3 linked regions of the Homo sapiens genome follow. The protein of the gene in region 1 interacts with the protein of each later gene in a biochemical or structural test. Each region holds a gene or a part of one and is shown in the gene's direction. Other genes may lie near its edges.

What was found.
Region 2: the proteins of PRKN (region 1) and ATXN3 form a complex in vitro, tested with the Homo sapiens proteins (4 studies listed by BioGRID and IntAct, with this or other methods).
Region 3: of the proteins of PRKN (region 1) and SNCAIP, one has a biochemical effect on the other in vitro, tested with the Homo sapiens proteins (3 studies listed by BioGRID).

What each region holds. Positions count from the first base shown.
Region 1 is NC_000006.12:162,255,625-162,259,472, reverse strand, and holds part of PRKN (E3 ubiquitin-protein ligase parkin), read left to right. Parts: intron 1-3,848. UniProt on the Homo sapiens protein: Functions within a multiprotein E3 ubiquitin ligase complex, catalyzing the covalent attachment of ubiquitin moieties onto substrate proteins. Substrates include SYT11 and VDAC1.
Region 2 is NC_000014.9:92,075,583-92,079,082, reverse strand, and holds part of ATXN3 (ataxin-3 reference isoform), read left to right. Parts: intron 1-3,500. UniProt on the Homo sapiens protein: Deubiquitinating enzyme involved in protein homeostasis maintenance, transcription, cytoskeleton regulation, myogenesis and degradation of misfolded chaperone substrates.
Region 3 is NC_000005.10:122,310,737-122,314,336, forward strand, and holds the start of SNCAIP (synphilin-1), read left to right. Parts: upstream 1-1,500; 5' UTR 1,501-1,548; exon of another isoform or gene 1,549-2,184; intron 2,185-3,600. UniProt on the Homo sapiens protein: Isoform 2 inhibits the ubiquitin ligase activity of SIAH1 and inhibits proteasomal degradation of target proteins. Isoform 2 inhibits autoubiquitination and proteasomal degradation of SIAH1, and thereby increases cellular levels of SIAH.

The sequences.
Region 1 (3,848 bases):
ATGGCCAGAATGGCGAGAAAAAAAATCTTCTTTCATTCTTTTTCTGTGACCAGAAATTTTGATGTATTTGTCTGGGGGTAGAGGCCCCAAAATGTTGGTACTGACCATACTCTGAGAAACTCTGCCCTATGGCTAAGGTTTTCCAGCCTTACAATTATGGATCCTACCTGTTGTTCTCACGGAACAATCGGACGCTGGGTGGGAGAACAGAGGCAGGTCGGTGAGAGGTGAACACACCAAGCCAATCACAGCAGCCTGAGACCATTCCTCTTTACGTACTTCACATATTAAACACATAAAACATCTATCATTTGAAAAGATGAAAAAAATCCTTGGTTATACAATGTTTGAAAACCTGTGCCTCAGAAAAAGAGATTAAAAGAAATCCCAATTTTCTGTGCTTCCAGAGTCTTCAATTTTAACTTCGAAGAATATAAGTGCTGGCTGGACGTGGGAGGGCTCTAATGGGTGAATAGCTGGGCTGTAGCCTCATATGTTGTCGAAACAAATGGAAACTTCTGAAACCCGAGAAGGTGCCTTTCAAGTATTTTTAGTTGGCAAAAGATAAGTGGTCAACATGAGAGGTGATAACATGATGTACATGAAGAACCAGTTACACTGTTGGTACTAAGAACGCAAGCATGTCACACTAAAGACTTGTAAGAGGACGTCAAAGAACTGGAACGAGTCATTGAAGTAGTTTTTACAGCAGTGCCACTCAAGCTTTAGTGCTCATCAGAATCACCTGAGGACCTATAAAAGCACAGATGACTGGGCCCAGACCAGTTGGCCTTGGATGGAAGCTGAGAAGTTGCGTTTCCAGCAAGCTCCCAGGTGATGCTAACACCGCGGGCCCAGGGGCTGTGCTTTGAGTAGTACTGCCCGAAATAGTAAAAAATAGTATTCCTTAAAATATGGTCAGTGAATAAAATCTATTTTTACTACATTTTCAATAAGAACGTTGAGCTGCACCTGGGCTCCAGGGTGCCTGTGTGTAAATTACCTTCATGTGTTATTGGTGTTTCCTAAATGAGGCGCCATTCATCATCTCCTGACAGATGAGATGAAGCTATTGGACCTAGCAAAAAAATAGGAGGCTCCTCCAATATCCGTCATACAGTTAACGAACTACATAAACAAATAACGATTGAGTCCTTACTCTGTGCCAAGCACAGTGCCAGGTACTGGGATGTAGCAGAAAATAGAAACAGACAAGATGCCTACCTCAACGGAGCTATTCTATTTGGAGCAGCTAGTAAGTGTGTGTTCTATCGAGAAACAGCAGAGTCAAGGGGACAAAGAGTATTGGTGGGGAGTTCCGTAATATACAGCAGCCGCGAGGCCTGTGTGATGAGCTAAACTGTGAGGAGGGCACCCTCAGGGAGCATCCATTTGTGTGCCAAATGGCAGAGGCGACAGCAACTCGTGAGCCCCAGGCAGGCCCCCGCCCAGAAAACGCAGCAGCCAGTATGGGGTGGAGCTTGGAGCAGGTGGAGCTCGGAGAAGAGGATGTCAGAAAAAGGGCAGGGTGGAGAGGTCAGGTAGGGTCTGCTGGGCCCAGGATTTGACCCTGTTGAGAAAATTTGACTTTTGAACAATGGAGTGACATGATCTGACTTCAGGAAGCCTCATGCTGGCTGCTTGTGAAGGAACTGCAGGAGGAAAGGGTGGAGGCAACACAACCCGGAAGGTTTTCAAATCCTAGAACTGCTGCACTGCCCAGAACATCGCGAACGGGCCATACCTGCAGGCGGTGTCGGTGAGTGCTTGCCGCAAACCTGGCACTATAGAAACCCTGTTTCCCTGAAATACCTCTTTTAATTCCTTGCAGCCTTGTAAGGTAGACCATGTTCATATCCTCTTTATAGATGAGGAAACTGCAGAGACCACTTGAGGAACCGACCCAGACAATTCAAGCCGTACCCAGGGACCGTCTCACTTCAGAGCTTATGTAAAATATCCAGTAGCCTGTGTTTTCCTGAATATAGCTATCAGGTGAAAGGAAATTTTGCATTTCCTCTAGATGTTTTGGTTAGAAAGTAGATATAGTCTTAAAATGGACCTTTTTGAAGAGTCATGTTAATTGATTTCAGCCAAGTAGTCAGATTTTAAAACTATATCACAAGGTATACTACTTTTTCAGAATTTTTTGCTTTTGAGAAAAAAAAAAGAAAAACTGTGGCCACGCTGGCCAGTCTGGTCTGGAACTACTGACCTCAGGTAATCCACTGACCCCGGCCTCTTGAAGTGCTGGGATTACAGGTGTGAGCCACCACACCCAGCCCCATGTTTTTGCTTATATGCTTCCAAAAGGAGAGGAGACATGTCATGAAATAGAGCGGGAAGGAGTGTCAGCATGCAATTGACAAAAAGCTGCGGAGAGGAATACCATGCCGGGGCAGCACAGGCTGAGGCTGGCCCCGTCTACCTTGTGCTTTTGTTCGTGCCTGTTTGGGTTCATGCCTCTGTGGGAATTGTTTTGCTTTTTGTGGTTGGTTATCTGTTTTGAAACATAAAGAAATAAAAAGTAACTGTGGGGGAGAGTAGGTGAGAAATGACAGCATTGGTTGTTGAAGTTAAGTAAAGTACTTGTAGGGAGCCTCAAAATGTTTTGATTTTTCTGAAGTCACCTCTGCAAGGTCATATTGTGATTTCAAGGGGAAGGGAGACATTGCATTCAAGACTCCATGAGGCCTGGCTGGACAGTGTGCTCTTCTAACGACAGGCCTCTACAAATGGTAGTGTCTGGGTGTCCCTCTCCTGGAGGCCTACATGGCCAGTGAAGCAAATCATTTACATCTTTTACTCTTCAAACCCTGAAGTGTTTCAGAGGACACTGCCCATATGCCAAGATGGGGAGATCTGCACTTGACAGGAATGAGCGTGGAGGCAGGGTATTTACAGCTGGGGAGGTCCATCTTGGGAATCATCTGAGCATCGTAATTATTGCAGAGTCTGCCAAAAATGCAGGCAGGCTGCTGGATTCCACTTTCTTAAAGGGAAGATAAAGAAAAAATTTCAAATTAAGTGGTAGAATTTAACTGTCTGTAATACACTCTTTTCAATCTTTCTAAATTTGTTCTGAGTAAATAAGGACTAATGGAAATTTTGTGAAATTTTATAGAAGGTGTTATTTTGTATGACCTGTAGCTTCCAAACATTTCATACATAAATCAAGAATTTATGGTCTACTTATGTAAGAAAAACAGAATTAATAAAATATCTATTATATAATAGAAAATGAAACCCTTATGACAAGGAAAATATCACTACATTCTTTTTTAGAGTACTTTTTGATAATTTCACAGAATCAGGCCCAAACTCCTACACCTTCTTCATCTATTTGACTATAATTAATTTTCCAAATGATACCTCTGATGCTCTGTAAGATCTTACAATTCTTCCTCAATCCCCAAAGGTTGACTACCTTTGGTGTTAGAGGTGTGTTATTAGATTCTAATTCTTTGCAAATTAATGCTCAATCTTTTCTGTGCATGATAATTAAACTCACTAGAGTCCCAGTGCATCAGTGGGGTTGTGATTTGCTTCCTGTAAGAAGGGAATCAAATGGCCGATAATTTACTTCAGTGGATTAAATGAAAATCGTTTGAACCAGTGTTTACCACAGTTCCTGGTATATACTACGCACTGAATACAGAATTTTTGTTGCTAGAAAATGCAGTCAAAAAGGGTGACAGACATTGATTTTGAATCCTTGAGCGCATTCATGGTACCTGGGCTGTGATGTGTCTGCCATGCAAATGCTAAGCCGACTGGCAGTAAGTGTGGGCCCCGGAGCCAAGCAACTTAGCCCGTCTTGGCTCTACTTCTTGCTACCTCTAGGACTC
Region 2 (3,500 bases), on another chromosome or scaffold:
TCCCAAGTAGCTGGGATTACAGGTACACACCACCATGCCTGGCTAATTCTTGTATTTTTAGTAGACACGGGATTTCACCATGTCGTCCAGGCTGGCCTTAAACTCCTGACCTCAAGTGATCCACCTGCCTCGGCCTCCCAGAGTGCTGGGATTACAGGCATGAGCCACTGAGCCCGGCCCAATCTCGTTTTATAATACTCCCATCTCCCATTCTTTCCACTGTCCCACCTGCAAGTTTGGATTATTTTGTAACAAATCTCAATCATCATATTATTCTATAACCATTTTAATATGTGTCTCTAAAATATATTAGCTTTATTTTTAACATAGTTAAATGCTATTGTCATAAAATAATAATCATAATAATTAATTGTAATTCTATATCATCAATTATCTAGTTAATGTAAAAAATAAATCTAAGGCCAGGCGCGGTGGCTCACACCTGTAATCCCAGCACTTTGGGAGGCTGAGGTGGGCAGATCACCTGAGATCAGGAGTTCAAGACCAGCCTGACCAACATGGAGAAACCCCATCTCTACTAAAAATACAAAAAATTAGCCAGGCGTGGTGGCGCATGCTTGTAATCCCAGCTACTTGAGAGGCTGAGGCAGGAGAATCACTTGAACCCGGGAGGCGAGGTTGCGGTGAGCCGAGATCGTGCCATTGCACTCTAGCCTGGGCAAAAAGAGTGAAACTCCATCTCAAATAAATAAATAAATAAATAATAAAAAATAACTTAAATCTACTTAATTAGAAAAACTAACATTCTAAAAATTTTATTTTAAGAAATATCAAAATTGGCTGGGCACGGTGGCTCACGCCTCTAATCCCTGCACTTTGGAAGGCTGAGGTGGGCGGATCACCTGAGGTCAGGAGGGTCAGGAGTACAAGACCAGCCTGGCCAACATGGCGAAACCCTGTCTCCACTAAAAATACAAAAATTAGCCAGGCATGATGATGGGCACCTGTAATCCCAGCTACTCAGGAGGCTGAGACAGAAGAATCGCTTGAACCCAGGAGGTAGAGGTTGCAGTGAGCTGAGATCACCCCACTGCACTCCAGCCTGGGTGACAGAGTGAAACTCCGCCTCAAAAAAAAAAAAAAGAGAAAAGAAATATAGAAATTAAAGCATACATGGCCAGGCGTAGTGGCTCATGTCTGTAATCCCAGCACTTTGGGAGGCTGAGGCAGGCAGATCACTTGAGGCCATGAGTTCAAGACCAACCTGGCCAACATGGCGAAAGCCTGTCTCTACTAAAAATACAAAAAAATTAGTTGGGCATGGTGGTGCACACCTGTAATCACAGCTACTTTGGAGGCTGAGGCAGGAGAATCGTTTGAACCCAGAGGTGGAGGTTGCAGTGAGCCGAGATTGTGCCACTGCACTCTATCCTGGGTGACAGAGCGAGATACTGTCTCAAAAAGAAAAAAAAAAGGCTGGGCGCGGTAGTTCATGCCTGCAATCCCAGCACTTTGGGAGGCCGAGGCAGGCAGATTACGAAGTCAGGAGATGGAGACCATCCTGGCTAATACAGTGAAACCCCGTCTCTACTAAAAAATACACAAAAATTAGCTGGGTGTGGTGGCAGGCACCTGTAGTCCCAGCTACTCTGGAGGCTGAGGCAGGAGAATGGCATGAACCCGGGAGGTGGAGCTTGCAGTGAGCAGAGATCACACCACTGCACTCCAGTCTGGGCGACAGAGCGAGGCTCTGTCTCAAAAAAAAAAAAGAAAGCATACTCTCACCTCCTTCAGTGACTGATGTTAGTATTTTGGCACATTCTTTTTCTGTGACATATACACACTTACCTTGTAAGTGTTGTACTCATTTCCTATGACAGTAAATAGTCTTTGTAACAGGCTGCATGATATTTCATAAAATGAATGGATGTGGCATAATTTATATGTGAGCCTTTTGAATTCTGCTATTATAATTAATATTGCAATGAACAATTCTTATATTGCCTCTACACCTCAAATGTCTTATCATTTCTTCTAGTTTTTCTGAGGATGTCAGATTATTGGGTTAAAGGATATGAACATTTTTAAGGCCTTGGAACAGATTTCTAAATTGCTTTCCAGAATAATTCCCATGTGATACTTTCACCATGTTTATTTCAGACTTTTTTTTTTTTTTTTTTTTGAGACGAAATCTCACTCTGTCACCCAGGCTGGAGTGTAGTGGCATGATCTCGGCTCACTGCAACCTCCGCCTCCTGAGTTTAAGCGATTATTCTGCCTCAGCCTCCCAAGTAGCTGCGGTTACAGGCAAGTGCCTCCATGCCTGGCTAATTTTTGTGTCTTTTGTAGACATGGGGTTTCACCATGTTGCCCAGGCTGGTTTCGAACTCCTGAGCTCAGGCAATCTGCCTACCTCGGCCTCCCAAAGTTCTGGGATTACAGGCGTGCACCACCGCGCCCAGCCATCAGAGTCTTTTTTGTCAAAATAAAATGGTCTAAAGACATACATCATAGAGAAACTATAATACAAAATTTACAGGTATATCTAAGAAAAGAAAAGTATATTTAAAGCATAAAAATAAACTGCTCTTTTACTTAAAATTTTTTAAAAACTGGATTAAAAATATGAAACTTCCAACAAATTGAGCTTTTTTTTTTTTTTTTTTCTTTTTTGAGACGAGGTCTCGCTTTTGTCACCCAGTCTGGAGTGCAGTGGCGCGATCTCGGCTCACTGCAACCTCCACCTCCCTGGTTCAAGCAATTCCCCTGCCTCAGCCTCCCAAGTAGCTGGGATTACAGGCGCATGCCACCACGTCGGGCTAATTTTTTTGTATTTTTAGTAGAGAGGGGGTTTCACCATGTTGGCCAGACTGGTCTCGAACTCCTGATCTCAGGCAATCTGCCAGCCTGGGTCTCCCAACATGCTGGGATTACAGGCATGAGCCACTGCACTCGGCCTGAACTTTTTATAGTAGTAACGATAATTCAGTAATGTCCAATAATGACTAAGTAAGTTATAACAAGTACAATGTCAGCAATAACTAGTGCTTTTTAGTAAACAGGGTCAGGCAACCTTGTACCCTTTTAAAAATGTTCGAATATCGATATACCTCCTTCCTACTTGGTGGAGGATTGATTGAGGAGGAAAGTGTGCAGTGATGGTTACCAGCTTCAGCCTCTTGGCTTGACTTTGCAAATACTGGTGAGAATTTGGAAAGAGCTTGAGAATATCTTACATAGTCACATGTTGCTGAGAAGAGTTAAGAACTAACTTCTTGATGTTCATTTTTAACAATGGCTTGCATTCAAAACCTTGTAGAGCTCATTAGTAGGAGCTAAGAAGCTAATATTTGCCTTTCACTAAAATTCCTGATTACTTAGCCTAGGTAGTTCGTTGTCTCTCTAGGTTCTGTCTTTGGGAGCTTGGGTCTAAGGTTATCAAGCTAACTCTTTCTTCCCTCTCACCCTTCCCAAATTGACCCTGGTGCTGATTTGTTATTCATACGATTTTCTAGTTTTTCTTTTCCCTTTTTGAGTAT
Region 3 (3,600 bases), on another chromosome or scaffold:
ACAAAGACTGCAGGCAGTCTTAGGCTAGTTACCCAGGAAACCCCAGCTTTAAACAACCAGAGCCTTCCTTTTTTTGTTGTAACAAGATCACACATCCCCATTGCCACTACTCAGATAGTGCCGGGTGTCCTAGGATCTTGGCGTCGCTCTTGTCCTCTGGAACAGGCATGGGAATGAGGATGCCTCTAAACTGACCAAGACTTACTTCCTCATGCTTTTCTCTGGGGCAGCATCAGGCAAGCAGCCATACCCTGGAACAAGAGTGTGGTCCTCAATGGCTTTGCTGAGTGAACTTCTCCAAGTCATCTCGCCTGGGAAAGAGATTTCTCAAAGACCATTTAAAGCTTTCCAGAGGGCAACAGCGAGACAGTCGCGAGCCAAGGTTACCATAAATGCTTCCACAACCCCTGATTTCATTTCGGAAATAAGGAAAGAAGTAGTCACCACTGCAGGCGTTGCTTACGCCTCATCCAGCAGCCTCCCACCCCCAATCCCTCAACAATTAAGAGACAATAAAAGTAAAGATAATATTACTGTAGGGCCATTGGTACACTGAAACGTCGTTGAATTAAAAAGTCTTTATTTCAGCCTAACATCTTCTCCATCCACCCACACTTGAGCACAGAACATTCCAGGCAGGCAAAGCCACCCTTGCCCTCCTCTCCTTGGCCACGTCCTCAGGGGTGGGCGAGCTTCGGGGGGAGGGGTGGGGGTGAAGACTCCGTGCCAACGCAAAATACTCTGCCAAAAGGCTTCTCAGACATGAGTTTCCCAGGGCAATGCCCACCTTCCGTTCCCCGCCTTCCCGAGTCTCTTCTCCCAGTTTATGCTGGAACCCTGGAATGGTCTGGGGACCAATGAGATGGCAGCGGTTAACGCTTGGATCACGGTGAGGGGGCGATTTCCAGGGGGAGAGGCCAAGAAGCAAGGAAGGGGGTGGGGGGCAGGAGGAGAAAAGTGGGAAGCGCGGACAAAAAGTAGGCGGGGAGGAGAGGAGAGCCCCAGCTGGGGAAAAGCAACGGCAGTCGAGGTAAAAAGAGCGAAAGGTAAAGAAAGAGCAGGTTCGTGGACAGGAGCCGGCGGGCAGGCCGGGGGATCCCTGGTGAGGAAGCGGCGAGGGAGGGGCGTGGGCCGAGCCGGGGGCGCCGCGGGGAGGGTCGCTGTCAGTCAGGCCGAGCGGGGCTCGCTGGCCTGGGGGCGGCCGCAGGGGCGCAGCGCAGCCTGAGGGCGCGGCGGCCCCGGCAGCCTCCGCAGTGGCAGTGGTGGCCGCGCCCCCGTCCCCGGCCGGGCGCCCGCGCTGCGTTCCTTGTCCCCCAGCGCCGGCTTCGGGCCGCGGCCGCCCAGGCTGCCCCCGCCCGCGCGCGCCCGTTGGGGGGCCCGGGGAGCGGCGCCCGCGGCCGGGCCGCATTGTGACGTAGCGGGGCCGCGGCAGCGCCTCCACCGCCCGCCTACTTCGGCTGAGGCTGTTCTGCTCCTGCCGCTGCGGTCCGTCGGTCGGTCAGTCAGTCCCTTCGCGCTCCTGAGCCGCCGGCGCGCCGGGCGCCCCGGGTGAGTCCAGGTCCCAAGCGGACGCCGCGGGGAGGCGGGAGGCGGGCAGCCAGCGGCTCAGCCTTTCCAAGTTTGCACCAGGCGACCCCGGCGGGTGTCGCCCCGTGCTCCCCAAGCCCCGGGACCCCTTTGTGCCGCGAGTCTCGGCTGCTCCGGGCAGCAGAGGCGCCTCTGCAGAAAGGGTTTGAGGGGGAGGTCTCTATAGTAACAGTAACAGTGGTGGCGGCAGCGGCTGCTTTACTGGGGAAAGGGGGAAACAACCCCCGCCTCGGTTTCCAAAGGATTGTTCTTTTCATTTGCCCGCCTCATGTGGTTCTTATTCTTGCTGTCACCCGGGATCTTATCGCAGGCAGGGATGGGCAGTTCCGCGGCTCGGAAAAGCTGAGATAAGGAGGGGCGAAGTAATAGTAATAGCGACAGTACTAACAACGGTAATAATAGCTGTAGAAAAGGGACGTCTGGTGTTGCTGCCGCCCCTCGCTCATCAGCACCAGCTCCCCGACTGCCCTGTCCAGCCCGGGCTCCGCCAGCCTCCCTCTAGTGCTGTTCTGCGTCCCAGGCTGGTCCGCGTGGATTTCAGAGGGGAATGTTTCTCTCTTGGCCTTGTCTCTTGGCGATGACTTTCATCTGCAGGTGGTAAGTGGGGTGAACCCAATTTTAGCTAATTGTCAAAGGCCACATTTTGTTTATTTCATTTTTACGAAGAGAAAAGAGGGAAAATTATGAGCCATTACTGGCAGCCATACAGTTTCCACAGGAAATACTAGCATTCTTTGAGGAACACGCTACTGCTTGCAGCGAAGAAAGTCTTAGGAAACAAAAAGGCAACAGCATTGTTGCTCATTTTCAATGGACGGCTAGGAGGGGGGAAACGTGTTGTTTTTTCCTGTGGGAACGTTGCTTTCCTTGGGAAAGTTAATTAAGGAAGCATTACTGTCGGTGCCCCTTTTCACTTGCTGGAGGCAGGATCGGATTCCTCTTGGCTGTTACTGACAAGTGCCCATCAAAGAGCCCGGAGGACGGGAGAACTGCTGCAGGACAGTCTCGCCACACACCACGTGCCGTGGAGCCTGGCCAGGGTGCAGTTTGCAAAATGAAATAAGGGCTGTCTGGGGAAGTTTATGAGGATTACATGTGTGCACAGTATGTCAGTTCTCCAAGGTGTCACTCTAAACACGTAATTTTCAAGCACTACTTTCGTTGCTGAATCTGTAGGAAGGGAAAAACCTATTTTTCTTTTATGGAGCAGACATCCCAATTGGGAATGGGTTGAAATCTGTATTTCATTTGTACATATTGAAAATTTAAAAGGCAAAGAACAAGGTGTAGGAAAGCAGTATGCTAATGTGTACACATCTGGGAGAGAAAGTCTATTGACTGTTTCTGATGCATCTCAATGTTAAATTACATTCAGCATGGTTAGAGTACAAGGAGACACCTTTAAGCAGTCCTCAAGACTTTTTGGAAGGTGCAATATTTCGGTACTGATCGCGGAAGTCTCTCTGGAAAGGGAGTATTAACTGAGGATTACCCATAACTAAATATGTATGCATTAACAGGTCTGGAATCAGAAAGTAAAAGATAGTGCTTCTCTTAAGGATCTTTTGGACACCTCAGTTAGAAATAAAATATAGCATGGGATTTTGAAAAGAAGGGGTATAATTTTGAATGTAAATTTCATTTTCTCCGTAGCAAGCATTTCATGAAGAAAAGTTACAGATAGTAGATTTGAAATGATGCTGCATTCATGAATTTGACGGTTACCATTTGTTGATATCCAAAAGGAAGTGACTAAAGCAAATGCATTTCTCTGTCTACTCTGTCACAACTTTCCTAATTCCAGACAGTTGTTCTGGTGCAGGTGTACAGTGGAAATGCAAGCCAAGAAACTTTGTGCGTGCTATTGTTTTGGAAGAAATTGTAGCAGTACTTTACTGCTCTTAAGGGAAACCCACACAAACATCTAATACAAACAAATGATCTTTGATATTAGCAGAAAAAGCCTGGAGCTGTTTTTCTTGCCAGATTTAAGGCATTTCTTGTCAAAAGAGG